Linked DNA regions of Homo sapiens: region 2 is linked to region 1. Evidence: fine-mapped expression QTL. Tissue or cell type: whole blood. Region 1 holds a variant in brackets; the other region holds the start of a gene. All regions are shown on one strand. Distances are from middle to middle.

Region 1 (5,891 bases):
GGAGTTAGGTAGTACACTGGACTTGAACTTCTACAAGGAACACCACAAGAACCCAGTCCCCCAACCCCTGGCTGTTCCTGCTAGCAGGGTCCTAGGGCTGCTGAAACATTTGCAGTGTGGTTCTTACTGGTGGTTTCATCACAGGAGTTGGACAAGCTGCTTCCTCCCTCCACTAGTCATCACTTCTCAGCTTCCTCCAGGCCTCAGGCATTGCCTGGGTGATGCTGAGCCTGGGCCAGCAACACAGTCTTGGTGGTTCATGTTTCTTGCATTACAGCCTCTGTGCTTTTTTGGATGGAATGTTTAACTTGGAAAATAAAAGCTCTCACCTCCTAATTTTTTCTTCTGAGAGCCAGCACAGCTAAACCTAAGAATGTTTTTTCTGCAGGCTATAACTGAAGGACTGAGGTAATCCATGAGCTTTTATTAAGCCATGTCGCTGGTTAAGAACTTATGAAATGTTATTGGAATAGAACTAAAAGGCCTTAACTTGCTTGAGTAAAATTTTAACTTAGATGTAGTCTCCTAATTCTTAGACCTATGGTGTGTCATGTCTACCTTACGGGTACTTTTTCTGAACCTGATAATAATGGCATGACCGTTTAGTATGGAGAAGAGTATAATTTCCTAAAAATTAATATCATTTTAGCTACTTCATTGTGAAGTGCATTTCTGCCCAGAATTCTCTCAAAGTCATAGTGATGCTTAAAGGATGCAGTTTGTTCTTTGGTGCACTTCAAACTGAAAATCATAAGGGTGCTGAGATAGTGATTAAAGAACGACCACAAGAATATAAACATGAAGTTCAGATAACTAGTTGCTTTTGAAAACCTCCAGGCTCATACACAGTAGCCAGTCAAGTGGGTTAAACATCAAGCCCTTATGGTGGGCCTGGCCTTGCTCTTGGCAATGGGATAAATAAAGTTGCTGCTACTAAGAATCTCATGCAGAATAGTAAGTAGGTAAGTTAACGGCAGTACTGGTAAGAGCAGTAAAGAGGATGAATTAGAATCTTGTGGGGCTGATTTAGATGGGGTTGGGGGTCAGGAAAGACCTCTCTGAAGAAGTGAGAACAGATCCATTTATTTTAACTTAAATGTCAGTTAAAACCTGAGAACAGATCCTTGTCAAAAATGTGGCCCAGCCCAGATAATCATTAAGGCCACCCCCTTTCCTCAGCAGAGCTAGATTAGGGGCCTCTTCGCTAGCTGGGCAGTTGCCCAGAGCACTAATAATTAAGGAGAACAGAAACATCAACTGGAGGAATTCAGCAAAATGTAAATCAGTCCTTCCAACAAATGATGAGAATGTCCCAATGGAAAATAAAACTGAAGAGTGAACACCATCTCTTACCTCTCAAGGTCTCTCCTTTAGGATGGGTCAAGTGTTAGGAAAAGCCAACCTAAAAAGCATAAGAAGAGTAGCCACTTAACAGACCAGTTCTACATTCTTCTGGAACGTTCTATGATGACTTACTTGGATGAGATCTTCCTACTTCCTCATTCCCAGCATAGATGTTGATATTGTTTGGGTCTGTGTCCCCACTCAAATCTCATGTCGAGTTGTGATTCTCAGTGTTGGAGCAGAGGCCTGGTGGGAGGTGACTGGATCATGGGGGCGGACTTCTCCCTTGCCGTTCTCATGATAGTGAGTGAGTTCTCACAAGCTCTGGTGGTTTAAAAAGTGTGTGGTACTGCCCCCTTTACTCTCTGTCTGTTGCTCCACTGTGGGAAGAAATGCTTGCTTCCTCTTCACCTTCTGCCATGATTGTAAGTTTCCTGAGGCCTCCCTAGCCATGTCTCCTGTACAGCCTACAGAACTGTGAGTTGATTAAACCTCTTTTCTTCATAAATTACCCAGTCTTAAGTTGTTGTTGTTGTTTTTTCAGATGTAGTCTCACTCCTGTTGTGCAGGCTGGAGTGCAGTGGCGTGATCTTGGCTCACTGCAACCTCCACCTCCCGGGTTCAAGTGATTCTCCTTCCTCAGCCTCCTGAGTAGCTGGGATTACAGGCATGCATCATCATGCCCAGCTAATTTTTGTATTTTTAGTAGAGACAGGTTTTCGCCATGTTGGCAAGGCTGGTCTCAAACTCCTGACCTCAGGTGATCCACTCGCCTTGACCTCCCAAAGTTCTAGGATTACAGGTGTGAGCCACCATGCCTAGCCTCAAGTAATTCTTTATAGCAATGTGAAAACAGACTAATACAGATGTCTTATGGTCTATTTCTTAAGAAATAAGGTGGTAATTTTTATTATTTTTAAATATGGAAAATGTGAATTTAAAAATATGACAATCGGCCGGGGGTGGTGGGTCATGCCTGTAATCCAAGCACTTTGGGAGGCCGAGGCAAGTGGATTACGTTAGGTCAGGAGTTTGAGATCAGCCTGGCCAATGTGGTGAAACCCCGTCTCTACTAAAAGTACAAAAATTAGCCCAGCATGGTGGTGGGTGCCTGAAATCCCAGCTACTCATGAGGCTGAGGCAGGAGAATCACTTGAACCTAGGAGGCGGAGGTTGCAGTGAGCTGAGGGCCACTGCACTCCAGCCTGGGTGACAGAGCAAGACTCCATCTCAAAAAAAAAAAAAAAAAAAAAAAGAGAACTAAGTGAAAAGGATTGATGGAAATATTTTCAACTTTAACACCGTGATTTCTAACCAGTGGACACTAAGTGGTCATCAAATCCATATTTGTACCAGGTATAGTCTTAGTGACTTTATATGAATTTATTGCCATTTTTCAAAATAATATAGATCTTGTGATTATACATTTATCTAGTTATATAACTGAGTTCTGTTCTTGTACATTCTTTTGAATAAATGTATACACCAAAGAGAAAACTATCATGTAGGAGTCAGCCATGTTTATGTAAGTGTGCACACTGGTGCACATGCACACAAATCAAAAGAGTTCCTGAAACTTAAGTGAATGGAAATGATTGTGCTTACATATATGCCAAACATTCTTCTAGAAAACAGAGCAAAAAATCTAGGGCCTTCATTTTGATATAATTGCATTTTCATATATATACACACATACATGTTTTTGAGATGGAGTTTTGCTCTTGTTGCCCAGGCTGGAGTGCAATGGTGCAACCTCAGCTCACTGCAACCTCTGCCTCCCGGGTTCAAGCAATTCTCCCACCTCTGGAGTAGCTGGGATTACAGGTGCCCGCCACCAGACACAGCTGATTTTTTGTATTTTTAGTAGAATTGTTGTTTCAACATGTTTGCCAGGCTGGTCTCGAACTTCTGACCTCAGATGGT[C/T]CACCTGCTTCGGCCTCCCAAAGTGCTGGGATTACAGGCACGAGCCACTGTGCCCAGCCGCATTTTCATATTTTAAAAGAAAATTTTAATAGCACAAAGTTAAACCTTTGTAACTTAAATTTGAAGTCGGAATTTAGGTGGGTCAGCTTGATCTTTCCAGTTAAGTCAAAAACTACTGATAAAAATGTGAGAATGAGATGTATTCCCTCAAAGATGATGATGCACATGCCCAAGTTTAATACTGCAGTAGTGGGGAGTGGAGAAATTAGTTTAAACTACCTGGATACACTATTTTCATAAATCACCTTTGCCATCACCTCAGGAAGTTTGAGTTTTTCTCCGGGGGTATGATCCAAACTTGCGTTGCCATAGCATCCAAGCCTTTTTCAGTGGTTTTGTCTTACTGTGTTACTACGGTTTCCCACTGCCTAGTATTACCCAGCAAGAGAGTACTGAGACAAAGTCAATGAATTGGCTGGGTTTCAGGCAGATTACTTCTTACTCCCTGCAGGTAGCAGCAGCCCGATTTCCACCTGTAATTGGGATGAACTGCCACAGCTTATTCTTTACTTCTTGTCTAGTGGCACAAGTAACCCTAAATGGCTAGGGTAGTCTCAACTTCCAATTTTATTTTTACTTGATTAAAAAAATTCATATTGAAATATACGTGCCCCAAATGCAAATGTTTTAAGCATAGAACCTGGCAAACTGGCAAACATACACACTTGTACTCATCACTCAGATCAAGAAATAGAACATTCTTAGTATCCCAGAAGCCCCATCTGATCACTTTTCCTAATCTTTTCTTCACGGGACACCACTAATCTAACTCCTTAAACCACACATTAGTTTTGCTTGTTCTTGATCTTTGTAAAATGGAATCACAGCATGCATTCTTTGTGATAGTTTTCTTTAGCTCAACATTATTTTGGTGAGATTCATTCATGTTTTTGCAGTTGTAAGTTGGTTTATTTTCATAGCTGCTTGAATATACCCCAATTAATTTATCCATCCACTATGAGGGACATTAGGGGTGTGATATGGTTTGAATTGGTGTCCCTGCTCAAATCTCATGTTAAATTGTAATCCCCAGTATCGGAGGAGGGACCTGGTGGGAAGTGATTGGCTCATGGGGACGGATTTCCTCCCTGCTGTTCTTGTGATCATGAGAGAGTTTTCAAGAGAGCTGGTTGTTTAAAAGTGTGTAGCACCTTCCCCTTCACTCTCTTCCTCCTGCTCTGGGCATGTAAGACATGCCTCCTTCCTTTTCACCTTCCGCCATAATGTAAGTTTCCTGAGGCCTTCTCAGTCATGCTTCCTGTATAGCATGCACAATTGTGAGCCAAATAGACTTATTTTCTTTATAAATTACCTAGTCTCAGGTAGTTCTTTATAGCAGTGCAAGAACAGACTAATACAGGGTGTTTACAGCTTTAGGTTATTCTAAATAGCATATGTCTTTTGGAGCACATGTGAATACATTTCTATTGAGCGTATCTAGTGCTACAGTTGCTGGGTCATAGGAAATGTGCATGCTCTACTTTAGTAGATCCTTCCAAAGAATTTGTCAAAAGTGATTGTACCAATTTACGCTTCCCATCATGACAGTTTTAGTTTTTCCGCATTCTTGCCAACACTGGCTTTTGCATTTTAGTTACTCTGGTGGAACTATAGTGGAAGTGTTGTGGTTTTAACTTGCATTAATTTGATAACAATTGATATTGAGTTCCTTTTCATGCATGCATTGGCCATTTGAATATCCTCTTTTGTGAAGTTATATATCTTGGCCATTTTTCTATTTGTCTTTTCTTATTAAGTCTTCCTTTGTCAAATATATACTGCAAACACATTCTCTTGTCATTTAGTTCTCTTAATGCAATCGTTTGAGGTTCCTGATTTTAATTTAGTCTAATATACACATCTTTTCCTTAGTGTTTAGTACCTTTTTTTTTTTTTTTTTGAGAGGGAGTTTCACTATTGTCACCCAGGCTGGAGCGCAGTGGTGCAATTTCGGCTCACTGCAACCTCTGCCTCCCAGGTTCAAGCGATTCTCCAGCCTCAGCCTCCTGAGTAGCTGGGATTACAGGTGCCTGCCACCACACCCAGCTAATTTTTGCTTTTTAGTAGAAACGGAGTTTCACCATGTTGTCCAGGCTGGTCTCAAACTCCTGACCTCCAGTGATCTGCTTCCCTCGGCCCCCCAAAGTGCTGGGATTACAGGCATGAGCCACCGCACCCCAGCTGTTTAGTACCTTTTGTACCCGCTAATAAATGATTTCCTACCACAAGGTCATGACTGTATACTTGTATATTATATTCTTTTTTTTAAATTTTTTTTTATTTTTAAGACAGAGTCTCGCTCTGTCGCCCAGGCTGGAGTGCAGTGGCGCGACCTCGGCTCACTGCAAGCTCCGCCTCTCGGGTTCACGCCGTTCTCCTGTCTCAGCCTCCCAAGTAGCTGGGACTACAGGCGCCTGCCACCATGCCCGGCTAATTTTTTGTATTTTAGTAAAGACGGGATTTCACCGTGTTAGCCAGGATGGTCTCAATCTCCTGACCTCGTGATCCGCCCGTCTTGGCCTCCCAAAGTGCTGGGATTACAGGCGTGAGCCACCGTGCCTGGC
Region 2 (5,891 bases), 190 kb before region 1:
CTTTTTCTCCTTCCTTCCTTCCTTTTCTTTCTTTCCTTCCTTTCTTCTTTTTCTTTTCCCTTTCTTCCTTCCTTCCTCTCTCCCTCCACTCCTTCCTTCTCTCCCCCACCCCCCGCCCCCACCTCTCTCTCTCTCTCTCTCTCTCTTTCTTTTTTTTAAGACAAGGTCTTAAAAAATTCTCTCATTTCCCAGGCTGGAGTGCAGTGGCATGATCACGGCTCACTACAGGCTCAATCTCCTGTGCTCGGGTGATCCTCCCACCTCAGCCTCCCAAGTAGTTGGGTCCACAGGTGCGTGCCACCACGCCCAGCTAAATTTTAAAAATTTTCTGTACAGACAGGTTCTTGCCATGTTCCCCAGGCTGGTGTTGAACTACTGGGCTCAAGCTATCCACTCACCTCAGCCTCCCAAAGTGCTGGGATTAACAGGCATGAGCCACCTCTCCCAGCCACATTTCTAAACAAAACAAAACAGCCCAATTTTTTACAACCCAATTTTTATTATTTTCATTTCCTGTTATTTTTATAGTTTGTTTTCTAAGAAAAGGAATTCCAATCAGAAAATCCTTAATCGATACTGCTACGTGGATTACAAGAAGCAGTATTCACAGAATCAAGTGTTTTTTTTGTTTGTTTGTTTTCTGTTTTTTGTTTTTTTGAAATGGAGTTTCACTCTGTTGCCCAGGCTGGAGTGCAGTGGTGTGATCTCGGCTCACTGCAACCTCCACCGCCCAGGTTCAAGCGATTCTCCTGCCTCAGCCACCCAAATAGCTGGGATTACAGGCACGTGCCACCATGCCTGGCTAATTTTTGTATTTTTTTTTTTTTTTTGAAACTGAGGGAGTCTTGCTCTGTCGCCAGGTTGGAGTGTAGTGGCATGATCTCGGCTCACTGCAACCTTCGTCTCCCGGTTCCAGCTATTCTCCTGCCTCAGCCTCTCAAGTAGCTGGGACCACAGGCGTGCACCACCATGCCCAACTAATTTTTGTATTTTTAGTAGAGACGGGGTTTCACCATGTTGGCCAGGATGGTCTCGATCTCTTGATCTTGTGATCCACCTGCCTCAGCCTCCCAAAGTGCTGGGATTACAGGCGTGTGCCACCACATCCAGCCTAATTTTTGTATTTTTAGTAGAGATAGGGTTTCACTATGTTGGCCAGGCTGGTCTTGAACTCCTGACCTCAGATGATTCACCCGCCTCGGCCTCCCAAAGTGCTGTGTTTACAGGCCTGAGCCACGGCTCCCGGCCAAGTTTCCTTTTTTTTGTTTGGTCTGCTTACTTAATAGTGGAAAGAAAGAGAGTCTCGTTTTATTTTCCTCTTTCTTAACTGGGCAGAGTGTACATTTTTTTCTCATGTGTGTTCAATCATTTGTGTGCTTTTTTTTTTGTGATTTGAAAAATCCCATGACAAGGTGTATTTTCCATCATGCTTTTCCTTACCTAATTTTATAAACTCTTTGTATATTTGTGGTTACAATGTTCCTAATTTGGCTATTTGCCTTTAATTATAATTTTTGATATTTTCTCATTCACAAGATTAGTTCATTATGAAGTTTGCTCATTTTTTATATTTTTTACTTTTCTCTCCAGCAAGTTCCTAGTTGACTCAACAATATCAGCAAGGCTCGGCTGGAAGCCTCTAATCTTTACTACACAGAAATAACCTCGGTTTACTATTCATGTTTCCCACGGGCATCTAGTGCATTTCCAAGTCGATTTAAAAAATCTTCACAAAGACAAAAATACCTCATTAGATCCTGCGCTTGCTTGGAATACAGATTTATAAAAATTTTTTTTTGTTTTTGTTTTTTAAGACAGAGTCTCGCTCTGTCGCCAGGCTAGAGTGCAGTGGCACGATCTTGGCTCACCGCAACCTCCGACTCCCTGGTTCAAGTGATTCTCCTGCCTCAGCCTCCTGAGTAGCTGGGATTACAGGCATGCGCCACCACGCCCGGCTAATTTGTGTATTTTTAGTAGAGACGGGGTTTCACCATGAGCCAGGATGGTCTCATATCTTGACCTTGTGATCCGCTCGCCTCGGCCTCGCAAAGTGCTGGGATTAGAGACGTGAGCCACGGCGCCCGGCCCAGATTAATTTTTTAAAATGCAAAACTTGCACAATCTTATTTTAACCATGCTTGCTTGTTTTCAAAATAATTAAAAAACAAAAACACAAGATTGCTCTTCCCAAAGGCTTATTTCTTTCCTTTAAATTTATTTTTTAAAGAAAAGCTAACGGCCGGGTGTAGTGGCTCACGCCTGTAATCCCAGCACTTTGGGAGGCAGAGGCGGGTGGATTACGAGGTCAGGAGTTCGAGGCCAGCCTGGCCAACATGGTGAAACCCCGTCTGTACTAAAAATACAAAAATTAGCCGGGCGTCGTGGCAGGCGCCTGCAATACCGGCTACTCGGGGGGCTGAGGCAGGAGAATCGCTTGAACCCGGGACGCGGAGGTTGCAGTGAGCCGAGATCGCGCCACTGCACTCAAGCCTGCCTGGCAACAGAGCGAGGCTGTCTCAAAAAAGAAAGAAAAGCAAAGCAAAGCTAACAAATGCTCTTCTGTCATGCATCATCACAGAATCAATGAGAGCTCCCCCCAGCCAGGAGACAGCGGACAACCAGGGTAGCTTCCCAGGGGGCCAGAGGGAGGCTGCGCGAGAAGAGGCTCAGCGGGATGGGTCCACGCAGGGAGATCCCACGCAGGGTGGGCGTATACGAGTGTCCACGTCCGGAGGGCCGTTCAAGGGCGGGTCCCTGAAGGAAGGGTGCACGCAGGGCACGTCCACGCGGGCAGGCCCGTGCACGCAGGGCGTGCCCATGCAGGGCGGGTCCGTGCAGGATGAGAGCAGCGGAGGAGGCCCACGCAGGCCATTTCCCGCCCCGTCCCCAGCCCACGCGGGCGAGCTACCGCGGGGGTACGCGCAGCTCAGATCCTAGCAGCTTACAAAAACAACCTTTTAAAAATGGAACCTTCAAGTAAAAATAAAACTTTGTTTCCCTCTTTCGCAGGAGTTACTGAAGTAGGAAGGGACAGCCCAGTAAGATTTCAGGATACGACTTGGGCCGGTCCGCAGGCAGTAGAGTGAAGCGCGCAGCTGCCAGGACTTGCGCGGTGACGTGCGCCGCTGCCAGGACCTTGCAGGTGGAGAGCATAGTTGCCAAAATCAAGGCGGAGGAGCGCACCGCCGCTAGGATCCAGGCGGAGAAGCCCACCGCGGCCAGGACCTAAGGATGCAGTACACTGCTGCCAGGATCTTGTCTGTGGAGCGCAGCGCGGCCAGGACCTCCGGCTGCAGCACACCGCTGCCAGGATCTTATCGGCAGAGCGCTCCGCGGTCCGGACCCCGCCCCGTGCGCGTCCCCGACCCCGCCCCGTGCGCGTCCCCGGCGTTGGCGTCTTCGTCCTGTTGCTGGTCTCCGTCCGGTCGCCGGCCGTCTAGGTCTCCGGCCCTCCCCAGCCGCTCCTGCGCCCTTGCCGGCCCCGCCGCCCGCAGCCCTGGCGCTCCCTGCGGGCCCCGCCGAGGCCGCCTGCGCCCTGTGCCAGCGCGCGCCCCGGGAACCGGTGCGCGCCGACTGCGGCCACCGCTTCTGTCGGGCGTGCGTGGTGCGCTTCTGGGCCGAGGAGGACGGGCCCTTCCCGTGCCCCGAGTGCGCCGACGACTGCTGGCAGCGCGCCGTGGAGCCCGGCAGGCCCCCGCTCAGCCGCCGCCTTCTGGCGCTCGAGGAGGCGGCCGCGGCGCCCGCGCGCGACGGCCCGGCCAGCGAGGCCGCGCTGCAGCTGCTGTGCCGCGCCGACGCCGGCCCGCTCTGCGCCGCCTGCCGTATGGCTGCGGGCCCCGAGCCGCCCGAGTGGGAACCGCGCTGGAGGAAGGCGCTGCGCGGCAAGGTGCGCGCCGCGGGGTCCCGTGCCCCACCCCGGACGGTGCCCTGCGCCTCTCCGCCCCCGCCCCGGTCCCCCTGAGCCCTGGGCCCTTCCCGTCTCCACTGTTCCTGTCCCCGGATTGTCCCCGTCCCCGGATTGTCCCCCTCCCCTCACCGCCACGGGTCCCCTCTCCAGCGTGTGCTGGGCCCCTCCCTCCTGCGGCTTGCCTCCCCATATTTCCTGCGTCTCTTCGGAGTCTGGTCCCCTTCCCCGTCTTGGTGTCCCCTGCTGGGCGGTGCCTTATCTCCCCACCCCCTACCTTCTACGAAGTCCTTCCCCCACCAGCGCCCATCTTTGTGGTCCCATCACTAGCTGTGCCCTGTCTCGCCCTCATAGACCCCCTCTAGTTCCTACAGATTGACTCCTCCACTCACTCTTCCCTTGGGGGAGACATCACGCCTCTTGCCCCTCTGTATTCCACTGTGTCCACAGGCCTGGCCCACCTTCTCGTCTGCTCCCCGGGCCACCCAGCCCTCGCCTGCACCCCCTGTCCCCTCTCCCATCTTTCAGAAACCCGCTCTGAGAGTCTGGCAGCAGCGGGTCCGGGAGTCTGGAGCCTTGCCCATGGCGGGTTGGTTGTGGGACACAGAATAGGAGACAACAGCCAGCCTGGGGTCCTGCTCTTCAATACAGGGGAGGGGAAGCCAGCCAGACTGTGTCCCTGGGTGCTCCTCCTGCATTGGGGGTCCTGCCACCGGGCAGAGCGACCCCCATCCGGCTCAGGCAGGGCAGGGTGTAGGGCAGGCTGTGCAGACCTTTGGTACAGGCCGAACTCACACTGAACAGGGCCACTTACAGACACAGAACTCCTAAACCCACCTAGACAGTCCCCTTAGCCCCAGCACCCAGATCCTTCTGAATAGGTGTGAAGCCCAAGAAACCTTTTGACTGCCTGTGCGTTCCTGCCCTAGACAACCGGGCTTCGAGGTTATCTCTGGGATGGTCAGACTGTGTGCAGTCAGCTGGGGTGATGTCCCTCAGTACTGGGCTGGGTTGGGGGACCCAGAGCTTCTGCCCACCCCTGGTGACCTTCTTTTCTTTACAGGAGAACAAGGGGTCTGTGGAAATCATGAGAAAGGACTTGAATGACGCCCGGGACCTGCATGGCCAGGCAGAGTCAGCAGCTGCAGTGTGGAAGGCAAGTGGGGGGACCTGGGGCAGCCTGGAATGAGGGGACTGTGGGCTCAGGGCTCTAGACAAAGGGACCACCAGGCCAAGTGGGCCAGGCCTCTGAACTGCTCAGCTGGTTGGTTGGAGGAGGGGCCTCTGGACTTAAGTGAGCTTCAGGGTATTTTTTTTAGGATGTGTTTGTATTTCTCAAATAGAATCTAGCCAAAGCCAGTGGAAGCCTCTTTTTCTCCTCACATTTTACCTGTAGGTGATGGCAGCATCAGACTTCTTTTTTTTTTCCCAAGAGACAGAGTCTCACTTCATTACCCAGGCTGAAGTGCAATGGCATGATTGTAGCTCACTGCAGCTCGAACTGGCCTCAGGCGATCCTCCCACCTCAGCCTCTGGGACTATAGGCACGTGCTACCACACCTGGTTAATTTTAAAATGCTTTTCTAGAGGTGGGGGTCTTGCTGTGTTGCCCAGGCTGGTCTCAAACTCCTGACCTTAAGCGGTTCTCCCGCCTTGGCCTCCCAAAGTGCTATTTTTTTTTTCTTTTTTAGAACACATCTGTAATTTTCTGTGGTCCTCTTGTTCTGATCTGAGAGTTGCTCATTATTTTTTAGAGGCTAGAAGTCCAAGATGAAGGAACTGGCAGATTCCCTGTCTGGTGAGGGCGTTTCCTGGTTCATAGATGGTGTCTTCTCACTGTGTCCTCACATGGTGGAAGAAGTGAGGGTGTCTCTGGGGCCTTTGTGTAAGGACACTGATTCCGTTCTTGAGAGTTCCACCCTCACAACCTCATCACCTCCCAAGGGTCCTGCCTCCTAACGCCATCACCTGAGGGATGAGGATTTCA

Evidence for each region. PIP is the estimated chance that this variant, and not a neighbour inherited with it, causes the effect.
Region 2: it holds the start of RNF187, and the variant in region 1 is fine-mapped to the expression of RNF187 in whole blood (INTERVAL, PIP above 0.99).

The regions. Positions count from the first base shown.
Region 1 is chr1:228,669,137-228,675,027 of GRCh38, forward strand. It overlaps a transcript of RHOU not described here. Among named protein-coding and RNA genes, the nearest start is that of RHOU, 63 kb to the right of the region's middle. The variant C/T (reference allele first, on the strand shown) is at 3,268.
Region 2 is chr1:228,483,993-228,489,883 of GRCh38, forward strand. It overlaps RNF187 (ring finger protein 187), which reads left to right and starts at 3,390. Exons shown (of 4, transcript NM_001010858.3): 1 at 3,390-3,886; 2 at 4,968-5,060. The coding sequence starts at 3,497. RefSeq lists enhancers at 2,268-3,129, 2,449-2,828, 3,130-3,990, 4,108-4,836, 4,837-5,564 and silencers at 3,449-3,568, 3,829-4,028.